Homo sapiens: one gene and its partners. The protein of the gene in region 4 purifies or fractionates together with the protein of the main gene of each other region. This does not show direct contact. Each region holds a gene or a part of one and is shown on either strand. Other genes may lie near its edges.

Evidence for each region.
Region 1: the proteins of KMT5B (region 4) and RNH1 purify together in Homo sapiens (affinity purification with mass spectrometry, with the first as the bait; one large-scale study listed by BioGRID). This does not show direct contact.
Region 2: the proteins of KMT5B (region 4) and DCAF8 purify together in Homo sapiens (affinity purification with mass spectrometry, with the first as the bait; one large-scale study listed by BioGRID). This does not show direct contact.
Region 3: the proteins of KMT5B (region 4) and MOB1A purify together in Homo sapiens (affinity purification with mass spectrometry; one large-scale study listed by BioGRID and IntAct). This does not show direct contact.
Region 5: the proteins of KMT5B (region 4) and CAPN2 purify together in Homo sapiens (affinity purification with mass spectrometry, with the first as the bait; one large-scale study listed by BioGRID). This does not show direct contact.

What each region holds. Positions count from the first base shown.
Region 1 is NC_000011.10:499,674-504,293, reverse strand, and holds part of RNH1 (ribonuclease inhibitor), read left to right. Parts: intron 1-2,044; 5' UTR 2,045-2,131; coding exon 2,132-2,232; intron 2,233-3,639; coding exon 3,640-3,810; intron 3,811-4,294; coding exon 4,295-4,465; intron 4,466-4,620. UniProt on the Homo sapiens protein: Ribonuclease inhibitor which inhibits RNASE1, RNASE2 and angiogenin (ANG). May play a role in redox homeostasis. Required to inhibit the cytotoxic tRNA ribonuclease activity of ANG in the cytoplasm in absence of stress.
Region 2 is NC_000001.11:160,226,594-160,232,855, reverse strand, and holds part of DCAF8 (DDB1- and CUL4-associated factor 8), read left to right. Parts: intron 1-1,448; coding exon 1,449-1,559; intron 1,560-6,262. UniProt on the Homo sapiens protein: May function as a substrate receptor for CUL4-DDB1 E3 ubiquitin-protein ligase complex.
Region 3 is NC_000002.12:74,170,970-74,177,231, reverse strand, and holds part of MOB1A (MOB kinase activator 1A), read left to right. Parts: intron 1-4,479; coding exon 4,480-4,646; intron 4,647-6,262. UniProt on the Homo sapiens protein: Activator of LATS1/2 in the Hippo signaling pathway which plays a pivotal role in organ size control and tumor suppression by restricting proliferation and promoting apoptosis.
Region 4 is NC_000011.10:68,171,797-68,178,058, reverse strand, and holds part of KMT5B (histone-lysine N-methyltransferase KMT5B), read left to right. Parts: intron 1-2,875; coding exon 2,876-3,041; intron 3,042-4,145; coding exon 4,146-4,255; intron 4,256-6,262. UniProt on the Homo sapiens protein: Histone methyltransferase that specifically methylates monomethylated 'Lys-20' (H4K20me1) and dimethylated 'Lys-20' (H4K20me2) of histone H4 to produce respectively dimethylated 'Lys-20' (H4K20me2) and trimethylated 'Lys-20' (H4K20me3) and thus regulates transcription and maintenance of genome integrity.
Region 5 is NC_000001.11:223,742,341-223,748,602, forward strand, and holds part of CAPN2 (calpain-2 catalytic subunit), read left to right. Parts: intron 1-1,759; coding exon 1,760-1,878; intron 1,879-2,965; coding exon 2,966-3,099; intron 3,100-4,656; coding exon 4,657-4,825; intron 4,826-6,262. UniProt on the Homo sapiens protein: Calcium-regulated non-lysosomal thiol-protease which catalyzes limited proteolysis of substrates involved in cytoskeletal remodeling and signal transduction. Proteolytically cleaves MYOC at 'Arg-226'.

The DNA of each region.
Region 1 (4,620 bases), about 68 Mb from region 4:
CGACGCGGGCGCGGGCGGGGGTCCCAGGGACCGGGAACTTTTGCGCGTCGCCTGAGCGTGGCCCGTGTCTCCCTAGAGGGTGGCCCCGCGCCCCCGTCACGTCGGAACATAAGGACCTGAATTGGCCTCCAGACGGCCCCTCCCATGTGGCTCCCCAGGGTGGGGCCCAGGCCTTGGGTGCTGCGGAGACCTCCCTCCGTAAGGTTGAGAAAGTCTGGTCTCCGGATAAGGGACCGTTAGGGCCTCTGTTCAGATCCCTGCCTCAACCAAAGCAGGCTGCCAGCTGGTGGTAGTGGGTTCCTGAATGTGCTTTTAGCTTTGGCTGTGTAGGGAGCCAGGGACTTCTCCAGTCACAGAGAAGGGCGTTTACTCCCGCATTTTCATGGGGTCCTCAGTGGGATCCGTGACCCACAGAGATTCAGAAGGGCCTTTCTGGGATACAACAGGGTCTGGCCAAGCCTGAGGGGTAGGGACGGGGCTACTCCCGCAGCGCTAGTTGCAGATGGTCACGGGAGCACTGGCCACCCTGAGCTCCCACCAAGCTTTCCCAGGAGGAGGACACCCTGGGGCCACCTTTCATCTGGCTGCAGAGGACACAGGAGTGTCAGGCTGGATTTGGGGAGCGTGTGCACCCTGGGCAGCCCCCTGAGGCTCTCCTTCCACCCGCCCTCCCGCCCACAGTGCCTCCTGATGACTAGATTCTGGAGTCAGAATTTGGGTGACCACACCCTGGTCGGTTTTGCTCACGTGCTTCGGGTCGGTTGGATTCAGTTCCTCCATGTGGGGCCGTGGGATGTCACCACCCTTTGCCACTGTCCTTGCAGGCCGGGCGCCCAGGCGTGTGGACCCGAGCCCAGCCTTGCGTCTTTCCTCCCAGTTGGTACCAGGGGCCTCTTGCCTCCACTCATGCAGAGTGGACCAGCCGCCTCTGAAGCAGCCCCGGGGAGAGGAGTGCCAGGCACACAGACTCAGGAAGCTGGGGGTGTCAGGGCACCAGGAGCCTCTCAAGCGGTCCTGTTGGCCGTCTTTCTGAAGGGCAGCTGGGGTTGCATCATTTCCCCAAGTGGATCCTGCCAACTTTCTGGGGCTTCTGGATGAGAGCCCTCTCCCCACCCCACCCACCCCTCCCCGCATTGTGGCATCAGTGCTGCTGCTTCCAGGGAGCCTTCCTGGCCATCCAAGCCTCCTCTCCAGGTTCCTGCCCTGCTGTAGTCCCCAGGCCAGTGCTTGGCAGGTGCTCAGGGAATGTATCCACCAACCAAGGTTTGGGGTGGCTGTCTCTGCCTGACCACTTTCCCCAGGCCCCTGGCGGGTACCTGAGCTGTGCTCTCAGGGCCTCAGGAACCTCCTTCCATATTCAGGGCCTGTGCCTGGGGAGGCTTCAGGGTGTAGCAGCTGTGCCCATCCCAGGCTGACCCACCCAGCTTGCCTGGTAGCCCAGCCTCTGGGCTAGTGTGCCGTGGGGCAGGGGATGTGCTGTAGCCTGGTGCAGAGTCCCCAACCCCAGAAGGGGGCCATGGAAGCTGACACCCCAAGTGGCCGCCCCCCTGCTCTGTCTTGCTTCGGACACTGTGGCCGGGTCCAGGATCCTGGCATCCTGGGAGGTCTCTGGCTTTGTGGGCAGCCTGCCTGGCCCGCACAGTCTGCCTGTCCTGAGGGTGAGACACAGGTCAAGCCCACAGACCCCCTTGCTCCCCTGCTGGGGCCTCCAGGCTCACAGACCACCCCACCCTACCCTGTCCTTGCCCAAGCAAATGAGAGGCAGGGGCTTCCCGGGCTGCTGCTGTCCCGCCCTCTGTGGGGCAGGAGGAGGTGCCCACAGAGGCTGGGTGGTGATAGCCAGGAGATGGGCTGGCATCTGCATTACCCAAGCTCTGCTGCCCATGGTGGCCTTTCTGGGGGTGGGTGCTGGTCCCTGCCCCCTGCCCCACCCCTGATGTCTGCTCCAGAGACAAAGGTGGGGAGGGTGCTGAAGAGGAAGTGTTTGCCCAGGGAGAGGCTGCGGCTCCTCCTGAAACATCAGCCCTGTGGGTCCTGTTTGCAGAATCTCCGGCCTGTGAAACTGTGAGGGGATTCGGCCAAGACGTCCTCTTCCCTCTGCCTCCCACCCAGGCCACTCTTCACCTCCACCATGAGCCTGGACATCCAGAGCCTGGACATCCAGTGTGAGGAGCTGAGCGACGCTAGATGGGCCGAGCTCCTCCCTCTGCTCCAGCAGTGCCAAGTGGTCAGGTACGCTTGCTCTCGGGGTGGCCTTGGGGTGCTGGTGGGGCAGGCTGGCGGGTGGCGGCTCCCTCTGAAGGGTGCATTGCTCTGGAACGCCTTGTTTGTGGACATGAAGTATGAATTCTGTGCAGCTACCACGTGCATGAGATGTGATTCTTGTGTTTCTTTTTGACAATTTAGGAATGTAAAACCCATTCCAGGCTCATGCAGCATGGGCTGAGGTGGGCGGGCCGAGGTGGGCGGCCACTGGCCAGTGGGTCTCTGGCTCCGGTGTCTCAGCTCCTCTCCCTCCCTTGGAGACACGAGGGCAGGACACAGCTTGGGTCCCCTCCGTGAGCCTCCATGGGGCGCTGCTTGTCCCTGCCAAGCTGGGGGCTGGGAGTCCTCGGCCCTCGAGGTCCTCACAAACCCAGCAGCTTCACAAGCAGGACACGAGTGCCTGGGTGGGCCGCATCTTTTCTCTTTTTACCTGGTGATTTCAAGTAGTGTCAGGTTTGCGGAGGAGTTACGAGGACCGGACGGGGCTCCCTGGTGAGGTGGTCCTGTGTACCTGCGGACGCTAGCTCTGGCCCAGCACCTCCAGGCAGGGTCTGCTTTTCCGCCCTGCCCTTTTCGTCTTCCTCACTGGTCCAGGATTGCGTGGCCCTCAGCCCTCTGTCTCCTTAGCCCTCTCCCGTCTGTGACTGTCCCCTCGTCTCTCTGGGTTCTTGGTGGTCTGAGGGTCTGGCCAGGCTCCTGCAGGACGTCCTCTGTTGGGGCTTGTCTGGTGGTTTCTTGTGGTTGAAGTCCTACAGTTTTGGCAGGAATGCAGGGAGATGCCGTGGGGCCTGCCAGGAGCGTCCTGTCACAGGCGCCGTCTGCCACCCTCTCCACTGTGACGCCACTGCCTTTCCTCCTGTGACTGATCAGTGCCTTCGAGAGATACTTTAAATTCTTTTTATTTTTAGAGACAGGGCATTGCTCTGTCACCCAGGCTGGAGTGGCTCCCTCATGGCTTATGCGGCCTCAACCTCCTGGGCTCAAGTGATCCTCCTGCCTCAGCCTCCCGAGTAGCTGGGATTATGGGCATGCGCCACCACGCCCGGCTACTTTTGTATTTTTAGTAAAGACGGGGTTTCTCCATGTTGGTCAGGTTGGTCTTGAACTCCCGACCTCAGGTGATCTGCCTGCCTCGGCCTCCCAAAGTGCTGGGATTACAGGCGTGAGCCACCGCGCCTGGCCACGTGCGAGCATCTTAAACAAAACTTTCATGGAACAGTTCCTCCTTTTTGTTTCATTTCTGAAATGTCTTGTGTGACTTGCCTTGCTGTCTTCTGGGCCCACTGATAGGTTGTAACCTGCACGTGGGGTGGTGGTGGAGGCTGAGGCCAGTGCTGTCTGCGTGGTCCACATGACCCTGGGGTCTGCTCACAGGCTGGACGACTGTGGCCTCACGGAAGCACGGTGCAAGGACATCAGCTCTGCACTTCGAGTCAACCCTGCACTGGCAGAGCTCAACCTGCGCAGCAACGAGCTGGGCGATGTCGGCGTGCATTGCGTGCTCCAGGGCCTGCAGACCCCCTCCTGCAAGATCCAGAAGCTGAGGTGAGGCGGGGCCTGGCACTGCCTCTGGCCTGGTGCAGTCTGCTTTGGTAGCCCGGCAGCAGGGGACAGAGCCGCCAGGGGCGCGTGGGCAGCTGCAGGTGGACAGGCAGTGGCAGCAGACATTTCCAACATCAGCCAGAGGCACACAGGCCTGGCGGTCTCACAGCGGGGGGGACAGGGCCCTTCCTGCCTTATCCCAGCCCCCGCACCCAAGATCTGGCCCTGCCCGCCATCCCTAGCCTTCCAGCATCACCACAGACCCCCACTGAAAGGTGTGTCTGCAGACAAGGTTTCCCTGGGTCGAGCCACATGCGTGCCCTCCTTCACTCGGCCTGGAGACCCCAGACCCCAGAGCCCCGTCCAGGGAAGGAGCAGGTATAGACCTGCCGCCTGAAGAGTGCTGCTCCGGGCTCTGGGCTCTGGCAGGCGAAGGGCGTGGCAGCTTGGCTCAGGGGAGCCCTGCTGACAGCCAGGTATGCTCCAGCCTCCAGAACTGCTGCCTGACGGGGGCCGGCTGCGGGGTCCTGTCCAGCACACTACGCACCCTGCCCACCCTGCAGGAGCTGCACCTCAGCGACAACCTCTTGGGGGATGCGGGCCTGCAGCTGCTCTGCGAAGGACTCCTGGACCCCCAGTGCCGCCTGGAAAAGCTGCAGTGAGTTTGTGTCCTGCCCCAGGGCCCATGCTGGCCGCTGCCTGTCCCCCAGCCAGCCCCCTACATAGAACATCGCCTGCCAGGAGCCGTGAGGAGGGGACTCAGGTCACAGGGGCCTTGTGGTGCTCTCCTTTCCCCATGATGCTGGGTCTGGG
Region 2 (6,262 bases), on a different chromosome or scaffold from region 4:
GCATATTTTAAGCTGGGTTTTTTATTTTTTTACTTTTTGAGACAGGGTCTCACTCTGTCACCTAAGCAGAAGTACAGTGGCAAGACCACGGCTCACTGCAGCCTCAACTTTCTGGACTCAAGGAATCCTCACACCTCAGCCTCCTGAGCAGCTGGGACTATAGGTGCATGCCACCACACTGGCTAATTTTTTATAACAATTTTTTTTTTTTTTTTGAGACAGAGTCTCCCTCTGCCACCCAGGCTGGAGTGCAGTGGCACGATCTTGGTCCACTGGAACCTCTGCCTTCTGGATTCAAGCAGTTCTTCTGCCTCAGCCTCCCAAGTAGCTGGGATTACAGGTGCATACCAGCACGCCCGGCTAATTTTTTTATTTTTGGTAGAGACGGGGTTTCACCGTGTTGTCCAGGCTGATCTTGAACTCCTGACCTCATGATCCACCCACCTCGGCTTCCCAAAGTGCTGGGATTACAGGCGTGAGCCACCGCACCCGGCTTTTTATAATAATTTTTTATAGAGATGGGGTCTTGCTATGTTGCCCAGGGTGATCTTGAGCTCCTAGCCTCAAGTGTTCCTCCCAAAGTGCTGGGATTATAGGCATGAGCCAGTGCCTGGCTTAAGTTGGGTTTTAAGTGACTTTTTTTTTTTTGAGACAGTCTTGCTCTGTTGCGCAGGCTGGAGTACCGTGGCATGATCTCTGCTCACTGCAGCCTCTACCTACCAGGCTCAAGTGATTCTCTTCCCTCAGCCTCCTTAGTAGCTGGGATTGTCCTGAGTAGCTGGGATGATAGGCATGCGCCACCACGCCTGGCTAATTTTTGTATTTTCAGTAGAGATGGGGTCTCGCCATGTTGGCCAGGCTGGTCTCAAATTCCTGGCCTCAAGTGACCCACCCGCCTCAGTCTCCCAAAGTGTAGGGATTACAGGCATGAGCCACCATACCTGGCCATAAGTTACATTTTAATGGAATCTGAGCAATAGTCTCTGACCTTAAGGTCTTTTTTAGCCTACTGTTTCTGGGATTCTTCTTCCACGTCTCTCCTTGTTCCCAGGTGATAGGGAAGATATATTTATAAATAAAGGGTAGGAAGGTATCTGTAGTATTGTCTGATTAATAACTGGCTGTTACTGTGTTGGACTGCAGCTAAACTGAGGCTTCCTAAAGAATGGTACATTCATATACCTTTAGTTTATACTTCTTAAGGAACACTAGAAAGTGACTTCACTACATATTTTTTTCCCCAATCCCCAAAGTCCCATATAATAAATGTATGTGCTTTTTTCCTGTTGTTACGTACAAAACAAACAGAGAAAACACAACAATTCTTTCTTTCCAAATGAGAATCTCTTTGGTTTCTTATTAGCCATGTGACTCTCTTGGCTCTCCTTTGCCATGACCATTTGGATCTTTTGGAGTATATAACTTTCTGTGCTTTTCTACTCTTAAAGGAAACTGGTGGTGACAAAAGAGAAAGAGAAGAAAGTGGGGCTGTATACGATCTATGTGAATCCTGCCAATACCCACCAGTTTGCAGTGGGTGGACGAGATCAGTTTGTAAGGTGAGTTTGTGGCTCTTTTGTGTCTTTGACAGTTTGTAAGACTGATGCATTGTATACTACCAGGTGCTCCTTTATGGAGAGTTACGAATTTTATAGGAATCCATTAACTATTATCTTGAATTTTTTACCGTTTTCCAAAAATCTTACACGCCTTTGGAGATGTTCTGTTCTCTAATGTAACAGTCTCTGAGGGGTGACTTTACATATTTTAGAGATTATCAAGTTTTAAAGAAGTTAGATGATGGTCAGGTGTAGTGGCTCACACCTGTAATCTCGACACTTTGGGAGGTGAGGCGGGTGGATCACCTAAGGACAGGAGTTTGGGACCAGCCTGGCCAACATGGCAAAACTCTGTCTCTAAAAAAAAAAATACAAAAATTAGCCAGGCATGGTGGTACATGCGTGTAGTCCCAGCTGCTCAAGAGGCTGAGGCAGGAGGATCACTTGAGCTCAGGAGTCAGAGGTTGCAATGAGCCAAGATTGTGCCACTGCACTCCAGCCTGAATGACAGAGCGAGACTCTGTCTCAAAAAAGAAAAGAAAAGAAGTTAGATGAATTGACCAAGGTCCTCACGTGGCAGCTAAGCCATAAATTTAGGTTTACCAGCAAGTACTATATTAGTAAATAATCTACCTTTTTCGTATGTAAATAAACGTGCACTAGAAATTTTAAATACTGGTTTTCAATTCAGAAATAGTTTGACTTGGGAGCACTTAGTGTGAACTGAGGGTTTTTTGGCTCTCACTGTCCTGAGCTACCACTTTTTTTTATCCATAGTGATATCTTTGTTACCGTGAACACCTTTTGTTAACACTGGCTCTTGAGACATGACCTAAGGAAAACAGACACTGTGGATTCAGTCTCCATATGTATTAGTTAATTTCCTCTGACCCTTAGTAATAAGCTGTATCCATCCCTATCCAGTTGGCCTATTTTAACTATGTTTCTTTGGGCTCATCAGTTTGAAAGGAGAGAGAGGGGCAAGATCACTAGAAAAATGAGTGACTTTTTGCTTTCCTAATGGTAAGTGAAAAGCATCATCTTCCTTTTGAAATGAGAGCACATTTTATAGCTATATTTCCAGATTCATTTTATTAATAAGAATCATGGGGAATAGGGTAAATTTTTAGAAAATACATGAGATGACTTTGCCTTGTTCAAGAATCCTGGACAAAACCTTGTTTCTCTCTTCTTCCCCTATTCCCATGCCTTCAAAATTCGTTTCCTCTAGTCACCAACAGTCCTTAAATGTGTAGCCATAGATTTTTTTTTTTAGACAGAGTTTTACTCTTATTACCCATGCTGGAGTGCAGTGACACAATCTTGGCTCACTGCAACCTCCGCTTCCCGGGTTCAAGCGATTCTCCTGCCTCAGCCTCCCGAGTAGCTGGGATTACAGGTGCACGCCACCACGCCTGGCTAATTTTTTGTATTTTCAGTAGAACCGAGGTCTCACCGTGTTAGCCAGGCTAGTCTCGAACTCCTGACCTCAGGTGATCTGCCCGCCTTGGCCTCCCAAAGTGCTGGGATTGCAGGCATGAGCCACTGTGCCTGGCCAATTTTTTTTATTTTTAAATAAGAAGCTGTTGATCAAAAAGGGTTGTAGTTTGTATAGATTTTCAGTTGCTACCTCCTCCAAGTTGAGCATTCACTGAAATTTTGAGTTGAGAGTTCCTACTTAGAGCTCCAGATTACTTGAAAAGTCTGTGTCTCTAACAAATTCCACCACTAGGACCAAGATGTTTGGAGGGGAATGTAGTAGTTTGCTGTATTGAGAACTGTATTCATATGTATGTATGTATTCATATGTATTCATATGATATGTATATCATATTGCCTTAACCCAAAGCTGATACTTTCCCAGGGTTAGAGTAAGGCTTAGAGTTTTAGCATTTCAACACAAGGAGAAATACTCAAATCTTCTGTGTCTTATCAGCCTCAATATTCCTCTATTGGCTATTTACTGGGCAGAAGTTATGTGAAGATTTTTGTTTTTTTTTTGAGACAGAGTCTCACTTTGTTGCCCAGGCTGGAGTGTAGTGGCTCGATCTCGGCTCACTGCAACCTCTGCCTCCTGGGTTCAAGTGATTCTCATGCCTCAGCCTCCCAAGTAGCTGGGATTACAGGCATGTGCCACTTTGCCTGGCTATTTTTGTATTTTTAGTAGAGATACGGTTTTGCCATGTTGGCCAGGCTGGTCTCGAACTGTCTTCAAGTGATCCACCCACCTCGGCCTCTCAAAGTGCTGGGATTACAGTCGTGAGCCACCGCGCCTGGCTATGTGAAGATTTTGAGGCACGCTGATCCTACACAAGCAGGTAGCCCTTTCAGCACTCCAGCTCTTCTCTGACATTAGGTTACACTCAACTTCTCTGGCACCTCTCCTGTGCAGCCAACTGAATGTTTTGAGGTTTCTCCTTTCTTATTCTTCCTTTGAAAGAACCCAAACAGCTCATCTTCTGGTATAAATTTGAAAACATTTTTGCTGAATATTATATATCATAACATCATTAACTTTCACTCCTAGCCTAAAGGAATTACTTCAAGGGAATATAGAGAAATAGCTTACTGATCCTCAAGGCTTTTGCATCATTAATACTGAATTTTAGTTTAGGGTTATTAAAAAGTATTTAAGGGAAGCTCTGGGGAGACATGCTTTTTGGCCTGTGGCCAAAAAAAAAAAAAAGGTAAGTAGAGGAGGTATAGGTGTGAGTCCCTACTACACCTGCTAAGCTAAGCTAATTCCTGCTTAGCTTAGTTTTAAGAATTTATAGGGGTAAAGAAAAAGAGAATATATCAGGTGAATCCTTTAGTGGTAAATTTGGCTGACATGAAAATTTATTGCTAAAGGATTAAGTATAGGCCCTGATTGATGAAGCACAGTCAGTAAATCATCTCTTCATTCCCCAGTTCTTAAGCCAACATCAGCAACACTGAGAGAACATTAGATTAAAGGCAGGTATAGAAGAGAGACTTAGGGTAACAAGTTAGTGGGTGCCTGAAGGCATGTGGGAAGAGATGTGGTAAAGGTGTGCACACTATTCCTTACGTGACTTAAAATGTCAAGGGGCTTGGTGTGGTGGCTCATGACTATAAAACTAGAGCACTTTGGAAGGCCAAAGCTGGAGGATAGCTTGAGGTCAGAAGTTCAAGGCCAACTTGGGCAATATAGCAAGACTGTGTCTCTACCAAAAAAAAAAAAAATTAAGAAAAAATTTTAATTTTTTAATTAATTAAATATCTCCAGGTGTGGTGGTATGCTCCTGTAGTCCCAACTACTTGGGAGGCAGAGGAGGATCTCTTGAGCCCAGGAGTTTGAGGCTACAGTGAGCTGTGATTACACCACTGCACTCCATCCTGGATGACAGAGTGAGACCCTGTCTCAAAAAAAATAACTAAAAGTAAAATATAAACTATCAAGGGCCTATCATATGTTCAGAAAGTGGTAGGAAAGTTTGTATTAATCTTTCTATGCTTACTGTCTATCACAGGGCTTGACAAACTGTAGTGCTTGTTTTTATAAATAAAGTTTTATTGGAACACAGCCATGGCCTTACTTTACATGTTGTTTATGACCACTTTCATGCTACAATGGCAGAATTCAATAGTTTTAATAGAGATTAGATGGTTTGCCAGTTTACCAGCTTAAAACATTTACTGTCTTGTCCTTTAAGAAAAAGTTTGCCAAACTCCGTTCTAGCATCATATGTAGAATATAGTAAGCTATTAATAAACACTTAGTTGGGGTGTAGTGGCTTATACCTGTAATCCCAGCACTTTGGGAGGCTGAGGCAGGAGAATCTTTTGAGGCCAGGAGTTTGAGACCAAGCTGGGCAGATGCTGTCTCCACCAAAAAATAAAAATATTAGCTCAGCATGGTGGTGTGTGCCTGTAGTCCCAGCTACGCGGCAGGTTGAGGCGGGAGGATCGTGTGAGCTGGGGATGTCAAGGCTTAAGTCATCAGTAACCTAACTGCCAAAGCAAACAAAGTACTTTTCAAGTCTTTTTCTCTACTCTTGACATTATTACTCCTTCCCTGAAGCACCTTCTCTCCTTGATGTCCAACCACTCCTCAGTGTTGTTCATGGGTGTGTCTTCCTTTCTCCACCCATTAAATGCTGATGTTCTCCAGTAGCTCAGTCTTCAGCTCTCATCTTACTCTATACCAGGGAATTTTAACTTGAAGTACAAATATTATGTGAACCTCCAGAAAGTATGCTTATGTGCATTTTTCTGGGGAGAAGGGACTAGAGTTTTCATTATATTCTGAAACAGGCCAGAGATTCTAAAGGGCGAAGGGAAAATCTTCTCTGTATTTTCCCTTGGAGATCTAATTCCATTACCAATGCTTTAACTACCACCTTTCACACGGATATATGACTTACATCTGTGTCTGCAGACCACACTTATTCTGAACTCTAGACTTACACCTACTTAACAAATGGATATAATTAACTGATGACTTCAGCCAGAGAAGTCTCAGTGGTGAGTTGAGAACCAAAACCAGATTAGGATGGACTGAGAAGTGAATAGGAAGTAAGAAAGTGGAAATATTGAATGTTGATTGTTCTTTTCAGTAGTGTAACTGTAAGGGGAAGGAGAAAAAAAGCAATAGTAGGAAAGGACAGTCAGCAGAAGGATTTTTAGAAAGTGGCCAGCTGGTGATGAGGAAGAGGTTGAGAAATTAGATAATCATCAAACAA
Region 3 (6,262 bases), on a different chromosome or scaffold from region 4:
AAGCGACTCTCCTGCCTCACACTCCCGAGTAGCTGGGATTACAGGCGCCGGCCACCACACCTGGCTCATTTTTGTATTTTTAGTGGAGACTGGGTTTCATCATGTTGGCCAGGCTGGTCTCGAACTCCTGACCTCAGATGATCCACTCCCGCACTCGGCCGAGACTTTCTTTTTTTAAAACTTGGCCTTCTTGATGGACACTTGAGTTGTTCCCGCTTTTTGGCCATTATGAATAATGCTGCTGTGAACATATGTGACAGGTTTTTGCGTGGATGTATGTGTTCATATCTCTTGGGTATATACTTAGGAGCAGAATTGCTGGCTTAAGTGGTAACTATGTTTAACCTTTTGAGGAACTGCCAAACTTCAAAGTGCTGCACCATTTTACATTCCCATAAGTACTCTATGAGGGGTCCAATTTCCCCACACCTCTCATAGCACTTGTTAATTTTCTTTTTTTTTTTTTTTGAGACAGAGTCTTGCTCTGTCGCCCAGGCTGGAGTGCAGTGGCTCAATCTCGGCTCACTGTAAGCTCCGCCTCCCGGGTTCACGCCATTCTCCTGCCTCAGTCTCCCAAGTAGCTGGGACTACAGGCGCCTGCCACCATGCCTGGCTAATATTTTGTGTTTTTAGTAGAGACGGGGTTTCACCGTGTTAGCCAAGATGGTCTCAATATCCTGACCTAGTGATCCGCCCACCTCGGCCTCCCAAAGTGCAGGGATTACACGCGTGAGCCACTGCGCCCGGCCTTGCCTGTTTTTAAATTGGGCTGTCTTTTTGAGTTGTAGGACTTCTTTATACATTCTAGATACAAGTCTTTATCACATCTATGATTTGCAAATATTTTCTTCCTTGTTCAATATAGTTTTTTTTATCATGTTAAAAACTTTTCAGATATGATTTTTAGTGTTTTCATCATTCTTTTTTACCTCCTTTTTTTTTTTTTTTTTTTTTTTGAGACAGGGTCTCACTCTGTTGCCTAGGCTGGAGTGCAGTGGTGCGATCTCAGCTCACTGCAACCTCTGCATCCCGGGTTCAAGCAATTCTCCTGCCTCAGCCTCCCAAGTAGCTGGGATTACAGGCACTTGCCACCACGCCCGGCTAGTTTGTGTGTGTGTGTGTGTGTGTGTGTGTGTGTGTGTGTGTGTAGTAGAGGCGGGGTTTCACTATGTTGGTCAGGGTGGTCTCAAACTCCTGACCTCAAGTGATCCACCCGCCTTGCCCTCCCAGAGTGCTGGGATTACAGGTGTGAGCCACTGCACCCGGCTCTTTTTTACTTCTTAATCAGTCTTATTTAAATTCCAAATTACTCAGGTAAAGTAAAAGTCCATAGTTCTATTCCATTCCTCTTCCTAGAAGTAATCACCAGTTTTGATGAGTTTAGTTTTTGATATTTTCTATGTATTTACAAAATGGGCTCCTGCTGTACGTTTGGTTGTGTATTATGTTTAACCATGTATTAGATCTTTCCCTGTGAATACGTGTACTCTGTCTGGTTTTCTTAACTTCTATACAATATTCCATGATATGGATGTACCATACTTTAATTCAATCCTCTACTGATAAACTTGAGGATTGCTTCTAGGTTTCTCCCTATTAAAAACAATCTTGGAAAAAAATTCTTATCCATATCTAGAGGAGATATTTAGAAGTAGAATGGATGGCTTGAGGAGCTTTTCAGTATTAATAGATACTACCATATTGCCCTCCCAAAATGTTACACTTTATACTTTCACCAGTAGTGTATTAAAATACTAGTTTCTCTGTACCCTAGTCCAGTGGTCCCTAACCTTTTTGGCACCAGGGACCAGTTTTGTGGAAGACAATTTTTCCACAGATCTGGTTGGGGAGATGGTTTCTGGATGATTCAAATGCATTACATTGATTGTGCACTTTATTTCTATTATGACATTGGAATATATAATGAAATAATTCTACCACTCATCATAATGTATAATCAGTGGGAGCTCTGAGCAACTAGACAATCCCATCTGGGGGTAATGGGAGAGAGTGACAGATCATCAGGCTTTAGATTCTCATAAGGCACATGCAATTTAGATCCCTTGCATGCACAGTTCACAGTAGTGTTCACGCTCCTGTGAGAACCTAATGCCTCTGCTGATATGACAAGAGGTGGAGCTCAGGTGGTAATGCCAGCAATGGGGAGCAGCTGTAAATACAGATGAAGCTTTGCTGCTTGCTCACTGCTCATCTCCTTCTGTGGGCTCCAGTCTGTGTCCTTGGGGTTGGGGGCCCCTACCCTAGTCCACATTTAATGTAATCATTTAAACTTTTGACATTCAGATTAGGGAAAAAATAAATCTTACTTTAATTGAACAGTTTTTCTCATGCTCATTGATTGTCATACTTCTGAATTGCCTATTCATCTCCTTAGCCTATTTTTCTAAAGGATTCCTTATATTCTTAACGAGTTACAGAAGCCCTCTATTATCCAGTTCATCCTTTGTAATATATGTTACAAGTACTTTTATTTGGTTACTTGTCTTTTTGCTCTGTTATGAAAGTTTTAATTGATACTATTTGAAATCTGTCCACTTTTTCTTTGAGGTTTCTGAGTTTTGTGCAGGAAGACTTTATGGATGGTGTGAGATAGGAATAAAAACATTTTTTCCTCAATAACGAGTTGTGCCTGTCTCATTTATTTTCCCTATTATAAACTTAAAGATGTTAGTGTTTCTTTTACTGTGGTTTGCTTTCAAGGCGTCTCAAATATTTTGATATAGAATACTGGATTTTTGAACTAAACCTCCCTGCGCCATTTTCTTTTTATCTTCCCCACCCCCCATTCCGCCTTACTATGTTGTCCTGGCTGGTCTCAAACTCCTGGGCTCAAGAAATCCTCCTGCCTTGGTCTCTCAAATGGCTGGGATTAGAGGTGTGAGCGACTGCACTTGGCTCCACCATTTTCTTTTTTCTTTTCTTTTCTTTTTTTTTTTTTTTTGAGACGGAGTCTCACTCTGTTGCCAAGCTGGAGTGCAGTGGTGCAAGCTTGGCTCACTGCAACCTCCGCCTCCTGGGTTCAAGCCATTCTCCTGCCTCAGCTTCCCGAGTAGCTGGGACTACAGGCGTGTGCCACCACGCCCAGCTAATTTTTGTACTTGTTTTTTAGTGGAGACGGGGTTTCACCATGTTGGGCAGGATAGTCTCAATCTCTTGACCTCGTGATCCACTGCCTCGGCCTCCCAAAGTGCTGGGATTACAGGTGTGAGCCACCGCACCTAGCCATGGCCCCATCATTTTCTTTTTTTTTTTTTTTTTTTTTGAGACGGAGTTTCGCTCTGTCGCCCAGGCTGGAGTGCAGTGGTGCGATCTCGACTCACTGCAAGCTCCGCCTCCCGGGTTCACCCCATTCTCCTGCCTCAGCCTCCCGTGTAGCTGGGACTACAGGCGCCCTCCACCACGCCCGGCTAATTTTTGTATTTTTAGTAGAGACGGGGTTTCACCGTGTTAGCCAGGATGGTCTCGATCTCCTGACCTCGTGATCCACCCGTCTCGGCCTCCCAAAGTGCTGGGATTACAGGCGTGAGCCACCGCGCCCGGCATGGCCCCATCATTTTCTATAGCACTTTGGGAGGCTGAGGCGGGTGTATCACTTGAGGTCAGGAGTTCGACACCAGCCTGGCAAACATGGCAAAATCCCATCTCTACTAAAAAAAAAAAAAATTAGCTGGGTGTGGTGGTGCATGCCTATAATCCCAGCTACTCGAGAGGCTGAGGCAGGAGAATCGCTTGAACCCAGGAGGTGGAGATTGCAGTGAGCCGAGATTGTGCCACTACATTCCAGCCTGGGTGACAGAGTAAGACTACATCTCAAAAAAAAAAAAAAAAAAAAAACCGAAATTGAGGCCAAAAGAAGGTTCAGTTTCTCAAGAAGACACAGTTAGTGTCAGATCAAGAACTAAAATCCAGGATGTTTCTCTGTACCAGACTTCTTCAGAGGGCATAGTAAAATTGCCTTATTTGTGGAATTGTGCTGCTAATCTTGCTTTTACAGGCAGGGGAAAAAAAGCATTCTTGTATTGTGATCATCATCTTCCTATCTTGGCATTTTTCAGAGAGTGTTTTTGTTTTTTTTGAGACTGAGTCTTGCTCTGTCACCTGGGCTGGAGTGCAGTGATGCGATTTCAGCTTACTGCAACCTCTGCCTCCCAGGTTCAAGCCATTCTTCTGCCTCAGCCTCCCAAGTAGCTGGGACTACAGGTGTGCGCCATCATGCTTGGCTAATTTTTGTATTTTTAGTAGACGTGTGGTTTCACCATGTTGGTCAGGCTGGTCTTGAACTCCTGACCTCAGGTGATCCCAAAGTGCTGGGATTACAGGCATGAGCCACCATGCCTGGCCCAGAGAGTATTTTTTATTTTATTTTTACAGGCTACTTTATATACCTAAAATTATGTTGTTCTACCTGTTCTACTTCCAGTCTTAAAAATTCATATACTTGCACTTTTAATCTTACAGCAGCAGCCGCTCTTCTAAAACATTCAAACCAAAGAAGAATATCCCTGAAGGATCTCATCAGTATGAACTCTTAAAACATGCAGAAGCAACTCTAGGAAGTGGGAATCTGAGACAAGCTGTTATGTTGCCTGAGGGAGAGGATCTCAATGAATGGATTGCTGTGAACAGTAAGTTTTAAAATGTAACTTTGCTGTTTTCTAGAAAGGTTTTGCTAAAATCTCTTTGTTAATGAATTTTCTTTTACAGTTAGAACTGTTTTAATATAACAAATTATCTGTAAAGAAACATTAAGTACAAATACATCCAAAGCTATGTTGCTCTTTTCAGAGTACTAGGTGGTAGTTTGTGAGGTTGAGTAGAGGGAGCTGAGGAGAAATGATGAGTGCTTTTGGGCAATTTCTAAGAAGAATAGTATGAAAAGCTGAGTAAGGTCAGATAAAAGATTGATAAATGAAAAGATTATGCCTGTTGTGGTCTGTGACTTTGTAGCAAATCCATCTACAGTTTTACTTCCACTCCCAGCAGTACTCATCAGCCTGCATATCCAGAAAAGTCAATTGCAGTTCATATGGACAGTTGATTGTTGTGACTTAGAGTGGCAGAGGGAATTGAGAGATTGGGAGAAAATGGAGGGATCTGAGCTGAAAGTCACTTTAAGTTCAAGAGAACAAGTGCATGACATGGGACAATATGCTAAGGCTAGAGATTTGAATGTGAGAGTCTCTCATTTCTGAGATGATATCATTTCTGGGTAATAAAGTTTAAATTAGAGATTTCAGATGTTCCAGGAATAAAAAGTTTAAATAAAAAGTTTAAAACTTTTTATTTATTTATTTATTTATTTATTTTTGAGATGGAGTCTTGCTCTGTTGCCCAGACTGGAGTGCAATGGCTCAATCTTGCTTCACTGCAACCTCCACCTCCCGGGTTCAAGCCATTCTCCTGTCTCAGTCTCCTGAGTAGCTGGGATTACAGGCACACGCCACCACACCCAGCTAATTTTTTACATTTTAGTAGAGACAAGGTTTCACCATGTTGCCCAGGCTGGTCTTGAACTCCTCAGCTCAGGCAATCTGCCTGCTTTGGCCTCCCAAAGTGCTAGGATTACAGGCATGAGCCACCACGCCCAGCCTAAAACTTCTTAATGGAAAATTTCAAACATATAAAAGTAGACTAAGTACAGTGAATTCCAGGTATTCATTCCATTACCCAGCTCCAACAAATATCAGTTTGTGACCAATTTTTCTTCTTCTATATGTCACCCTGATTATTTTAAGCAAATCCCAGACATGATGTTTTATCTATAAATATTTCAGTAAGGTATGTCTAAAAGACAAGAACTTGTAAAGATAATGACAATGCCATCCTCCTTTAACTTATCAAATATCTGGTCAGTGTTCACATTTTTCATGACTGTCCCATAAATGTTTCTTTTATTTTTTATTTTTTTTTTATTTTATTTTTTGAGATGGAGTCTTGCTCTGTCACCCAAGCTGGAGTGCAGTGGCGAAATCTTGGCTCACTGCAACCTCCACCTCCACCTCCCGGGTTTAAGCAATTCTCCTGCCTCAGCCTCCCCAGTAGCTGAGGGATTACAGGTGTCCGCCACCACGCCCGGCTAATTTTTGTATTTTTAGTAGAGAGGAGGTTTTGCCATGTTGGCCAGGCTGGTCTCGAACTCCTGACCTCAAGTGATCTGCCCGCCTCAGCCTCCCAAAGTGCAGGGATTACAGGCGTGAGCCACCGCACCTGGCCAAATGTTTTCTTTTTAAAATTTTTTTGC
Region 4 (6,262 bases):
GGTTATCTGTTTCCCACCATTTCATATTTCATATTTCATATTGCTCGACAGGTCATGCCTTAGCTGAGAGCTGCTTTGTTGTCTTATCTGTCCTTCATGTGCAAATAACCATGTAGTGTAGGATTGCAGCAAGAATGGTTTCCATTGGATTTCTTGGAGATGGTATCTTGACACAATCAATTGTGATGGCTACAAGTAGTTGAGTATGGATATTTGGATGCTTTCCCAATTCTACAGCTCTTTATTTTCATGGTGGTTCTCTGACACCATATGTCGACAGACTAGTAAGACGTTCTGAATTGTTTAAAGGACTTGCATTTATCTGTCTGTAAAGGCTTGTATACCAATTGATTGAAAATGGAAAATAGGGCCCTGTTCATTTCTTCAGTATTATCTCTAGGATATGTTTGAACTTTCAGATGGTTCAGCTAATAGTTGTGAGAATTCAGGATTACTGAATTAAAAAAAAAATGACTAGAGTGTGTAGCTAGTAAGTTCCTGGTAGTATCAGTATGCATTAATACACCTGAAGTCTTCCAGTGATCCTGTCCAGTAAACAGTATTATACCTGTTCAGGACCTCATGTCTTTCCTCTTCCTGATTCTGGTACTTTACTTTATTATTGCTACCTAGCTGACCCTGGTCAACTCTTTGAATCCAGCTTGATTAAGATCTTCTGCTTAGACTTCCCCTCATTCTTCCTTCCTTTTGATTCTTACCTGCTTATAATGTGCTTTTCTTAAACCTTTCCCATGTACATTTTGCACCCTAGTTATAATTTCTATACTTTTAGGTGCTATAGCAATGCAGTTTTTAGCATATTAACATGCATTTGCATATTGATCACTTGCTTAACTGTTTGATGCATATATATGTCTTTTAGTCCCAATTAAATTTTCCATTCAAGAACAGTGGCCATGTCTTCTCTTGTATTTTTCACCATAGCACTTCATATGCCACTGTATACACAACACAGCACCTAATAATCCTTGATGAAATACTGTGGCTTGAAATCTTACTGAAATACTATGAATACATATATGATAGCTTCTCTAGGAAAAAAAATTCTGCTGAATGCTTCCTTTGCTGGAGTTTGTGCTAGATCTTACCTCAATTTTAGCATATTCAGGTTTATGAAATGTACAATTTTAAATGTCAGAGTAAGACACATAAAGATTTTTTTCTCCTGAACCACTAATATTTTTTCTTAATGTATTTTATTTGAATGGCAATCGGTGATTCCTTTTTTCTGTTGGACGTTTTGTTTTGTTTTTTTGATACAGAGTCTTGCTCTGTCACCAGGCTGAAGTGCAGTGACGCGATCTTGGCTCACTCCAACTTCAACTCTCGAGTTCAAGCAATTCCCCTGCCTCAGCCTCCTGAGTACCTAGGACTACAGGCGTGTACCACTACGTGGGCCTGGCTAATTTTTTGCATTTTAGAGACGGGGTTTCACCAGGTTGGCCAGGATGGTCTCGATCTCCTGACCTCGTGATCCATCCGCCTCGACCTCCCAAAGTGCTGGGATTATAGGTGAGAGCCACCATACCGGGCCATAATCCGGTTAGAATTAGCTTTATGAAAATAAAATAAAACTTTTTTTTAAAATAAAAACTTTATTTGGGAGAATTAGCTTTATGAAATTGACATGAAAAGAAAATTTGAAATTAAGATGCTAGTAACTTTATAGTACACGTTTTACTGAAAACACAGCTTTAGAATGAGGGGTTCACAAATTTGTCTTGCTTGGGCCATGACTGCATCATGCATAAATACAGACCTAATGGGATAATATTCTGAAGACATCAGTGTGGCTGATTCTACAATGGAAGCCTTTTCAATTCTACCCCTGCAGGCCAGGCGCAGTGGCTCACACCTATAATCCCAGCACTTTGGGAGGCCAAGGTGGGCAGACCACTTGAGGTTAGGAGTTCAAGACCAGCCTGGCCAACATGGTCTCTACTAAAAATACAAAAATTAGCTGGGCATGGTGGCGCACGCCTGTCATCCCAGCTACATGGGAGGCTGAGGCAAGAGAATCACTTGAACCCGGGAGGCAGAGGTTGCAGTGAGCCAAGATCACACCACTGCACTCCAGCCTGGGCCACAGAGTGAGACTCCATCTCAAAAAAAAAAAAAAAAAACAACTCTACCCCATCAGTTTTCCTACATTACCAGTATAGCAATTTCACCACTAGAGTTAACACTGCTTGTACTCGTTTTGTTCTCTGAATGCAGTCATCAAAGATGACTTTGACATGGGTGGTTAGAACATCAAGGTGTGTTTCGAAGCCTGTTGGAATACTTAGTTTGGGGTTTTTTCTGACTGTGTACATAAAGAATGTTTTTGTGTATGGCATGGTTTTGTTTACATCATCATACTTCTGAAATTCATTGCCTGGCACTCTTCCAGCTTGATTTTGCATGTTTTAAAAAGATTCTTGTCATTCTAACTCTAAATTAGGTGTGCTGTATTCTAGAGCTTTGATTTTGTGTCTCCCAAAGTTGACGACTAGTGTAAGTCTGAATCAGACAGCTTTTGTTTGAATCGTCTGCTCACCTCACAGTTAATGAGATAACAGTGAAATAAAAATAATTAAAATAACAGATTGAAAAAAGAGAAGTTACTGAGATAACAGTGAAATAAAAATATTAAAATAACAGATTGAAAAAAGAGAACTTGCGTATCCAGGTGATCAGTATTACTTGAATAGTAGTAATCAAGACTATTGATTGTTGTTCTCTTCTCTTAGATCTTTGCTCTGATAACCATGGCTGTTTTTAGGGTATTAGCTCTTTCTCAAGATCTGTTAAGATGGATCAGTGGCGCAAGGATTGTGGCAGATAACCCATTCATTCTTTTGATTTCTTTCAGATTTAGGCCTATTAAAGGAAGGCAGGAAGAACTAAAGGAAGTAATTGAACGTTTTAAGAAAGATGAACACTTGGAGAAAGCCTTCAAATGTTTGACTTCAGGCGAATGGGCACGGCACTATTTTCTCAACAAGAATAAAATGCAGGAGAAATTATTCAAAGAACATGTAAGTTTATTAAGACTGATGCTGTTAACCTATTTGGATAAGAATAGTGAAGTAAATTAAAACCCTAAATGTTAGTTAATACTGAAATTTTAAATTTATTTTTCATAAAACTAATCAGTCTGAAGATCTTGTAACACATACAGTCATTTGGATGACAGTCCAGAGAAAAAACTGGGCCAGGCTCAGTGGCTCATGCTTGTAATCCCAGCACTTTGTGGGGGCTAAGATGGGAGTATTGCTTGAGGCCAGGACTTCGAGACCAGCCTGGGCAACATAGCAAGACTCCATCTCTAAAAAAATAAGAATAAAAAAATTAGCTAGGCATAGTAGTGTGTACCTTTGTAGTTTGTAGTTCCGGCTACTCAGGAAGCAGAGCCAGAAGCATTGCTTGTGCCCAAGAGTTAGAGGCTGCTCTGAGCTATGATCATGCCACTGCGCTCCAGCCCTGGGAGACAGAGCAAGACCCTGTCTCTAAAACCAAAAAAGGAGAGAAAACTTTGTCATATAGAGGTGAAATTCATTATGAGCCTTAAGGGAAACAAGCCATTAGGTACTCATACAGAGTGAGTACCCTTAACCCCAAAATTTGAAATGCTCCAAAATCTGAAACTTTTTGAACACCGACCTGACACTCAAAGGAAATGCTCATGGGAGGATTTTGAATTTTTTGTTTAGAGGTGTTCAGCTAGTTACTGTAATGCAAATATTGCAAAATGAGAAAAATTGTGACATTCAAAACTCTTGAGTAACAATAAAGTTTGTTACCTAATGATCTTACTTTTTTTGTTTATTTTATTGTTTTTTTAGAGGCAGAATCTTGCTCTGTCACCCAGGCTGGAGTGCAGTGGCCTGATTATGGCTCACTGCAGCTTCCATCTCTTGGGCTCAAGTGATTCTTCCTCTCAGCCTCCCACGTAGCTGGCACTAAAGGTACATGCCATCATGCTTGGCTAATGTTTTTCGTAGAGACAGGGTCTCGCTATGTTGCTCAGGCTAGATCTTACATTTTTTTCATCATTGCGGGTGGTTTGCTTTTATAATTGTAAGAAAGTCTAGCAGGGTATACCATTTAAAGTCATTATCAATTTTTTTTTCCTGTTTTAGGTATTTATTTATTTGCGAATGTTTGCAACTGACAGTGGATTTGAAATATTGCCATGTAATAGATACTCATCAGAACAAAATGGAGCCAAAATAGTTGCAACAAAAGAGTGGTAACTATTCTACTAGTATAAGCCTTTAATTTAATTTAAAGTTCTCTTCTAAATTATTGTTGAAGTGCTGAGAAATTCATGGTAAGGAATGAAGCCAGAGTTTACCCTGAAGTAGCCAATGCATCGCCGTTGCCTTGGCCCATCAGCTGGAGTCAGAGTGGGGAAATCGGAAGTCTCAGTTGAACCAGATCCCATCTCTAGGCCAAATTGCTTTTCATTTTCCTTTATTGACTCTGGATGCCTGTTCAGTGATATGATTGCTGAAGAGTTGTGGATACCGTGATTAGATAACCTGGCTTCCACAGTCAGTCTTCTACTGGCCTAGAAGAAAGGTTGGGGCTAAAGTTTTAATGATCCTAGTTTTATGGGTGGAAACCTCCCTAAAGCATTAGTTGCTTAAAAATACATACATACAGATATATATATATGTATATATGCCAGCTTCAATAAAAATAGTAGAGTTGGTGGGGGGCATTGGCTCACGCCTATAATCCCAGCACTTTGGGAGGCCGAGGCAGGCAGATCACTTGAGGTCAGGAGTTCAAGACCAGCCTGGCCAACATGGTGAAACCCCATCTCTACTAAAAATACAAAAATTAGCTGGGCGTGGTAGCACACACCTGTAGTCCTAGCTACTCGGGTGGCTGAGGCAGGAGAATCACTTGAACCCAGGAGACAGAGGCTATAGTGAGCTGAGATCGCGCCACTGCACTCCAGCCTGGGCAATAGAGTGAGACTCTATCTCAAAATTAAGTCAGAGTTGAGCCCAGCTAAAAGGGATAAAAGTTACAGATGAAAGAGAATATACTACTGTATCTTCTTTCCTATCATGCCTGTTCCCTATGTTATCTCCCAGGAAAAACATGTAGCTCCTCATGTACCCACCCTCTGATATTTCTACCACAAAAATTTGGGGGGTCAGATATCTGAAAATGGATAGGTAAAAGAACTTTATTGCCAGGCCTCTGGGGTGAGTGTGTGTACATGAAATGTGCTTCATTTACCTCAGGATGTATTGAGCCTGCTAGTTGGATTATGTGGCTCCCTGTGTTGCAGATGGGTGTGTAGGTTTGAGATCTAGAGTCCTAGAGCTGTACCGTCCGGTACAGTAGCCACCAGCCCTTGAGTCCTTGAAATGTAGCTAGTCTGAATTGAGAAGCGCTGTAAGTGTGCTATACACACCAGATTTCATATTAAATTTTATTCCCATTCATAGTTCTTATATTACCTACTGAAATCGTATTTTGGATATTGGGTTAAAATATATTGTTGGCTGGGCATGGTGGCTCATCTGTAATCCCAGCACTTTGGGAGGCTGAGGTGGGCGGATCATGACGTCAAGAAATCGAGACCATCCTGGCCAACACGGTGAAACTCCATCTCTAGTAAAAATACAAAAAAAAAAAATGAGCTAGGTGTGGTGGCACACACCTGTAGTCCCAGCTACTTAGGCTGAGGCAGGAGAATCACTTGAACTCAGGAGGCAGAGGTTGCAGTGAGCTGAGATCACGCCACTGCACTCCAGCCTGGGCAACAGAGCGAGATTCCGTCTCAAATAAAATAAAATAAAATAAATTGTTAAAGTAATTTCACCTATATTCACTTAACTTTCTCAATGTGGCTGCTAAAAAATTTAAGATTGAAAATTTGGCTTGCATTATATTCCTAGCAGATGGTGTGCTCTAAAGAGTGGCACCATGATTCCGGATCCTCATAACCCTTACTGCCACTGGTCCCTGCCTGCTTCATCCAGCAGTCAGAAAGTTTAATTCATTGCCGCAAGTATTTGAGTACTTTCTGCTTGCAAAACACCACACCAGGGCATTCAGAGACATAGGTGGCATAGTCCCTGTCCTGGTTGAGTTTCCATTCTCTTGCAGGAATAAGATAGGTACACAAGTAACCATGGCACAAGGCTGTGGAGCTCCAGGGTAGGAGAGAAGATAGCCAGGTGGGGATCCCAGTGAGCTAACTAAAGTATAGACAGCTAGGCCTTTTCAGTTTCTG
Region 5 (6,262 bases), on a different chromosome or scaffold from region 4:
AAGATGACACCATTGCACTCCAGCCTGGGTGACAAGAGCGAGACTGTCTCAAAAAACAAAACAAAACCAAAGAATTCAGTGAACTTCAATAACATATATATATGTTACTGATATATATAACAATATTACATATATTACATATTTTATATATATGTGTGTATATATATATATATATATATTTTTTTTTTTTTTTTTGAGACAGGGTCTTGCTCTTCTGTCACCCAGGCTGAGTGCAGTGGCATGATCACATCTCACTGCAGCCTCCACCTCCTGAGCTCAAATAGTCCTCCCACCTCAGCCTCCCAAGTAGCTGGGACTACAGGTGTCTACCACCACACCTGGCAAATTTTTGTATTTTTTTGTCGAGACAAAGTTTTACCATGTTGCCGAGGCCAGTGTCGAGCTCCTGTGCTCAAACAACCCACTGACCTTGGCCTCCCAAAGTGTTGGGATTACAGGCGTGAGCCGCTGCGCCTAGTCTTCAGTAACATTTTTAATAAACCTGTCAATTGGCGAAAATAAATCCAACAGTGAATTAAACTCCTTTGAGGCTACTTCCCATTATTGTCATGGGAAATTGTAGGAAAGTGCACATTCCTTAAGAATGGAGTAAACTTCCTCATCCTCTTCCCAGGCCCCCTCCCCTTTGTTTGTGTTTTGTGGTGAAGATGACCCCTCCCTGCAAACCATCTGGGTGCTGTTGCTGGCATCAGCTTGCTTCTAACTGCATGAAATGATTGTGGTGCCTGCTGTGCTGAGAACCTAGCACTGGCACCAAATGGGTGCCGAGTGCTTACACACCTGCTCTCATTATGCCTCACACTTATCCATGTCATGGGGGAGGGTTCTGAGGCTCAGAGAGGGACCAGGCTGCCTGGCCAGCTGCCCACCTCGTTGTGCCCATCCTTGTCTACCCCTTGAAGTGACCTCTGCCCCTCCGCACAGAAACCCTTCGGGACAGTCCAGCCTTCTGCCTCTGACTCAGGGCTTTTCCATCTGCACTGCTCCGTACTTACTTCCTGCGACTGTACTCCCTGCCAGAGCCTCTTTTCCTGGCTCTGACCTTCCTCCTAGGAGGCGTGCAACGTTTGTCCCCTTCCCATCTAGCACTACGTTTTCTTTCTCTCACTCAAACTCCCCTTTATATATTTGTTTGTTTATTTATTTAGAGATGAGGGTCTCCCTCTGTTGCCCAGGCTGGAGTGCAGTGGTGCAATCATGGCTCACTGCAGCCTTGAAATCCTGGGCTCAAGGGATCCTCCTGCCGCAGCCTCCCAAGTATTCGTATTATAGCTGGGACTCCAGGTGTACGCCACCACACCCAGCCCAAACTCCCATTCAAAGCCTGTGTGCTCAGAAGCCTCTGCAGCTGCGCTGGTTTCATTCTCTCACTGTGGAGCATCTGCTGCGAATCAGGTGCAAGGCTGGGCTCTGAGGGCACAGTTCAGCCACCAGAGTTCTGGGTCTTTCAGGGAATGAAATTTCCCATCTCTGCCCAACCACAACACAGCAAAAACATTTCTCCCTTTGCATTTCCCTCAAAATACTAGGTTGGTGCAAAAATCACAATTACTTTTACACCAACCTAATAGCCCCCAAACCCTCTGACCCAACCCTCATATGGGGGACTGCCTGAAACTTCACTCTGTCTATTCACAGGTTGTCTTAGGCTTTAAGCCCCTGGAGGTGGAGACAAGATTTTTAACATCCTCCTGGTTCTAAGACCCTCTGATAAGAGCTCCTTGTGCTGTGTTCACAGGTGACTGCTGGCTGCTGGCAGCCATTGCCTCCCTCACCTTGAATGAAGAAATCCTGGCTCGAGTCGTCCCCCTAAACCAGAGCTTCCAGGAAAACTATGCAGGGATCTTTCACTTCCAGGTAACTTAATGGTTGGCTCAGGTGGTTCCTCAACAGGTCCAGGGGGCTAGGAACAGTCTTCTGGCTTGGCTGGGTTCATCAGTCCCTGGTGTTTGCAGACTCCCAAGACCAATACTGTTCTACAAAGGACATTGGGCGAGAGCAGGAAGCTTCCTGGCTTACCCGTGGCCAGGATGTGAGACCCGGCTGGGATGGCCCTGGGTGGTTTCTTGGGACATGTAAAAGGGAGGTAGAGCAAGGTGTTCAGGAACTAATTCCCAAGTTTAAAAAAAAAAACTGTATTATTTGATGTTTGAGACAAAAACGTTGAAGTTCTCCTCCTTTTATGCCGGTAAATGAGAAATAATACTTGAAAAAGCTGGCTGGGCACGGTAGCTCATGCCCGTAATCTCAGCACTTTGGGAGGCCGAGGTGGGCAGATCATTTGAGGTCAGGAGTTCGAGACCAGCCTGGCCAACATGATGAAACCCCATCTCTACTAAAAGTACAAAAATCAGTTGGGCGTAGTAGTGCAGGCCTGTAATCCCAGCTACTTGGGAGGCTGAGGCAGGAGAATCACTTTAACCTGGGAGGCAGAGGTTGGGAGGCCAAGGTGGGTGGATCACTTGAGCCCAGGAGTTCGAGACCAGCTGGGGCAACATGCTGAAACTCCGTCTCTACTAAAAACACAAAAAAAATTAGCCGGGTGTGGTGGCACGTGCCCTTAATCCCAGCTACTCGGGAGGCTGAGGCAAGAGAATCACTTGCATCCAGGAGGCAGAGGTTGCAGTGAGCCGAGATCGTGCCACTGCACTCCAGCCTGGGCAGAGCAAGACTTGGTCTCAAAAAAAAAAAAAAACAGCCTAAGGTACAGGGCAGAATGCTAAAGAGGCGGGTGTGGATTTGAAAGGATGGACATGCGCCTCTGTCTTCGCTTTTTTAGTGAGGACTTGGCCTGCATAGGAGAGTTAAGGGAGCACCTCCTCCCAGGATGCGCTCATGGAACCTATCCCAGGGGATCAGGGCAAGGGGAGCCAGAGGCAGCTGAGGCTCAGAGTCCCAGTGCTGCCACCAGCTCCTCCTGCAGCCCACCTCTCTTGTTCTGCAGTTCTGGCAATACGGCGAGTGGGTGGAGGTGGTGGTGGATGACAGGCTGCCCACCAAGGACGGGGAGCTGCTCTTTGTGCATTCAGCCGAAGGGAGCGAGTTCTGGAGCGCCCTGCTGGAGAAGGCATACGCCAAGTAAGTTGCCATCCTCCCCTGGCCCCATGGCCTTCCCCCAATGCCCTGGATTCCAAAAAATTCACTCATGCCTGTAATCTCAGCACTTTGGGAGGCCGAGGTGGGTGGATCATTTGAGGTCAGGAGTTCGAGACCAGCCTGGCCAACATGATGAAACCCCGTCTCTACTAAAAATATAAAAATCAGTAGAACTACTCCAGGACTACTTTGAGTGGGAAGTCCTTTTCTATAGAAGGACTTCTTTGGCCAAAATTAGGCTCTAAATGCAAGGAGATAGTGCATGCAGGGTGCCTGGCTGCACTGTACGCTGATAAATGATGTCTATCACCATCTTTAACCAAATGCACAGGAACAAGTTATGGTACTGATTGTGCTGGACTTGAGAAGGAGCTCTACTTCCTTGACAGGACACATTTGTATCAACTTAAAAAAGCAGAATTTTTGCCAATGGGCAGAACTATTCATTGCAGAGGTAGGAAACTTGCCCAGAATAGATGATGTCACTGATTAGCAATGGCTTCCCCATCTCCGCACAGCTGCTTCCCACCCAGGTTGCCCACAGTTGAGTTTGTCCAGTGCTCAGGGCTGCCCACTCTCAGTAAGAAGCCCCACACCAGCCCCTCTCCACAATGGCCCCATGTTGGCTGTGCCGCCCGGCTCCTTCCATTAAAGTGACCCCACTTTAGAGCAGCAAGTGGATTTCTGTTTCTTACAGTCCCAATCCAGGAAGGAGGAGTCAGCTGTGAGAACCTGGAGCCTGACGGATGCTTCTAAGTCCCACTGCTCAATACTGGGGTCAGGGAAGCCACCGGACTCCAGCATCAGCAGTCAGGAGCACTAAGCCCTTGCCAACACCGTGCCTGTTTCTCAGAGAAACTGCTTCCATTATTGAATGGTTGTCCTTTTTTAAGCTATCAATGCCAAACGACCCATTAGTAGACCTCCCCTTTCTTGTCAGGATGTAGAAGGAATCAATACAGGAGGTTCATCCAGAAAATCACTAAGGTCCTTCCGACTCTAAGGTTCTACGAGAATCTTTTTTTTTTTTTTTTTTTTTAATACGGAGCCTCATTCTGTCACCCAGGCTGGAGTGAGCGGCATGATCTCAGCTCACTGCAATTTCCACGTTCTGAGTTTCAGCAATTCTTTTGCCTCAGCCTCCCAAGTAGCTGGGACTACAGGCATGCACCACCATGCCCAGCTAATTTTTTTGTATTTTTAGTAGAGATGGTGTTTTGCCATGTTGGCCAGGCTGGTCTTGAACTCCTGACCTCAAGTGATCCGCCCACCTCGGCCTCCCAGAGTGCTGGGATTACAGGCATGAGCTACCGCGCCCGGCCTGAGATTTTCTTTAAAACACAAAATACCAGGGAAATGGTAACTGTGGACATTATACCTTGCCTTCCTGAGCACCCCGAGCTGGGAACAAGGCCAAGGAGAATGTGAGCAGGGGGTCCCTGGAGCATCAAATCTAGACGGTACTAGGGGGTGGCTGTTTGAGAGATTATAGCATCAGTAGTGTCAAGGGTAGCGGCAGCGTCTAATCCCCTCTTGTAGGATCAACGGATGCTATGAAGCGCTATCAGGGGGTGCCACCACTGAGGGCTTCGAAGACTTCACCGGAGGCATTGCTGAGTGGTATGAGTTGAAGAAGCCCCCTCCCAACCTGTTCAAGATCATCCAGAAAGCTCTGCAAAAAGGCTCTCTCCTTGGCTGCTCCATCGACGTAAGTCCAGGCTGCCTTCCCTAGCCTCACCCCATCTGCTCTTGCTGAAGGGAGGCTCCCACAGTGCCCAAGGGAACCCACTGCTCCTGTGTACAACGTAATGCAGCCCTCGTCCACGTAGGGGCCAAAGGAAAACCTCCCTCCACCCTCTGAAGGTCCGCTGAAAATCAACTGGCAAAAGGAAGACTAATACAAGAAATGGCATACAAATGTATGAATGTGGACAGGGGAGAATCACAAGAGATTTCCCTACCACGCATTGGGATACAGAGGGTTATATTCCCTTCCTCTTAGGGGAAGGGAGATGGGGAGGTGCGGATGATTTTAGGGATGTCGTAAATGATTTTTAGGGGAATTCATTGGGCTTAAAGAACATAAATGGTCTGGGATAAAGTCTGTTGGGCCTGCAGAGCAGACAGTGGTTTGTGACAAGTCTGTCTAGCCATGTTGACAGACTTGTCTTTCTTCCTGCAATATGAGTTCAGTTCATAATAACTCATGGAAAGGACCAGACGTCATTGTTTTCATCTTTGGCAGGTCCAGACTTTAGGCAGGTGAGGGAACTTCAGAGAATAGCTTCCTCCTGTGCTTTGGGGGAGAGTGGATCGAGAGACAGAAGGAAAGGGGAGGTCAGAGAGATCTTGAGGCTTCTTCAGTTTAGCATTTCAAAGTGCCATCTCTTAGAGGTATTGGTTTCTGAGCACCCCAGTGTCTACCATTATTGCTCATCACCTGGAAGCCAAGGGTTGCTAGGCAAAAGTCAAGCTGTCTGGGGTGTAATGGATGGGGTGATGGTGCCTCCAGCCCTTCTGTCTTCAGTCCACTTCCCACTCTTAGCCTGCTCTGAATCACCCCCACCCCTCTGACCACAGGTTCCCTGGGAGCCCCTGCCACCTGCTGCCCCTGCCACCTTCCCCTCCATCTGCAGTGCTGTGCAGCCTTCCCCTGCACTCTTGCAGAGCTAATAGGCCCGTGGGAGACTTCGGAAGGAAGAGGAGGAAAGATTTCCTCATAATAGCCTTGCTGGCAACGCTCACCAGGGGATGGGAGGTGGGCACTGTGCCCAGGAGCCTTGGAGCAAAGGCTGTGCCCAACCTCTGAGCCCTGTCCCATCCAGGTTCTGGTCTCTGCGGGGGACAGAGATAAGAAGCCCTGGCTTTTGGAGCCAAAATCTAGGTCAGACTCCCTAGGCAGGAATTCTCAAAGTTTATCAGCAGAACACGTTGAGGCAGAAGACCCTTTCTGCTCCAGCCCTTCTTCCCAGGCTCAACCTTCATCAGAATAGATAGGGGAAAGGAGAGGCTGTGAGGCGTTCTTAAAACAGAAGCAAATTCTGACTCAGACCGGAATAAACAACCGTCCTAGTATAAACCCTACAGCTGGGCTGGGCCAGACCACGGAGCATGGGCTGGTGGTGGGGCGAGGGTGTGCTCAGTG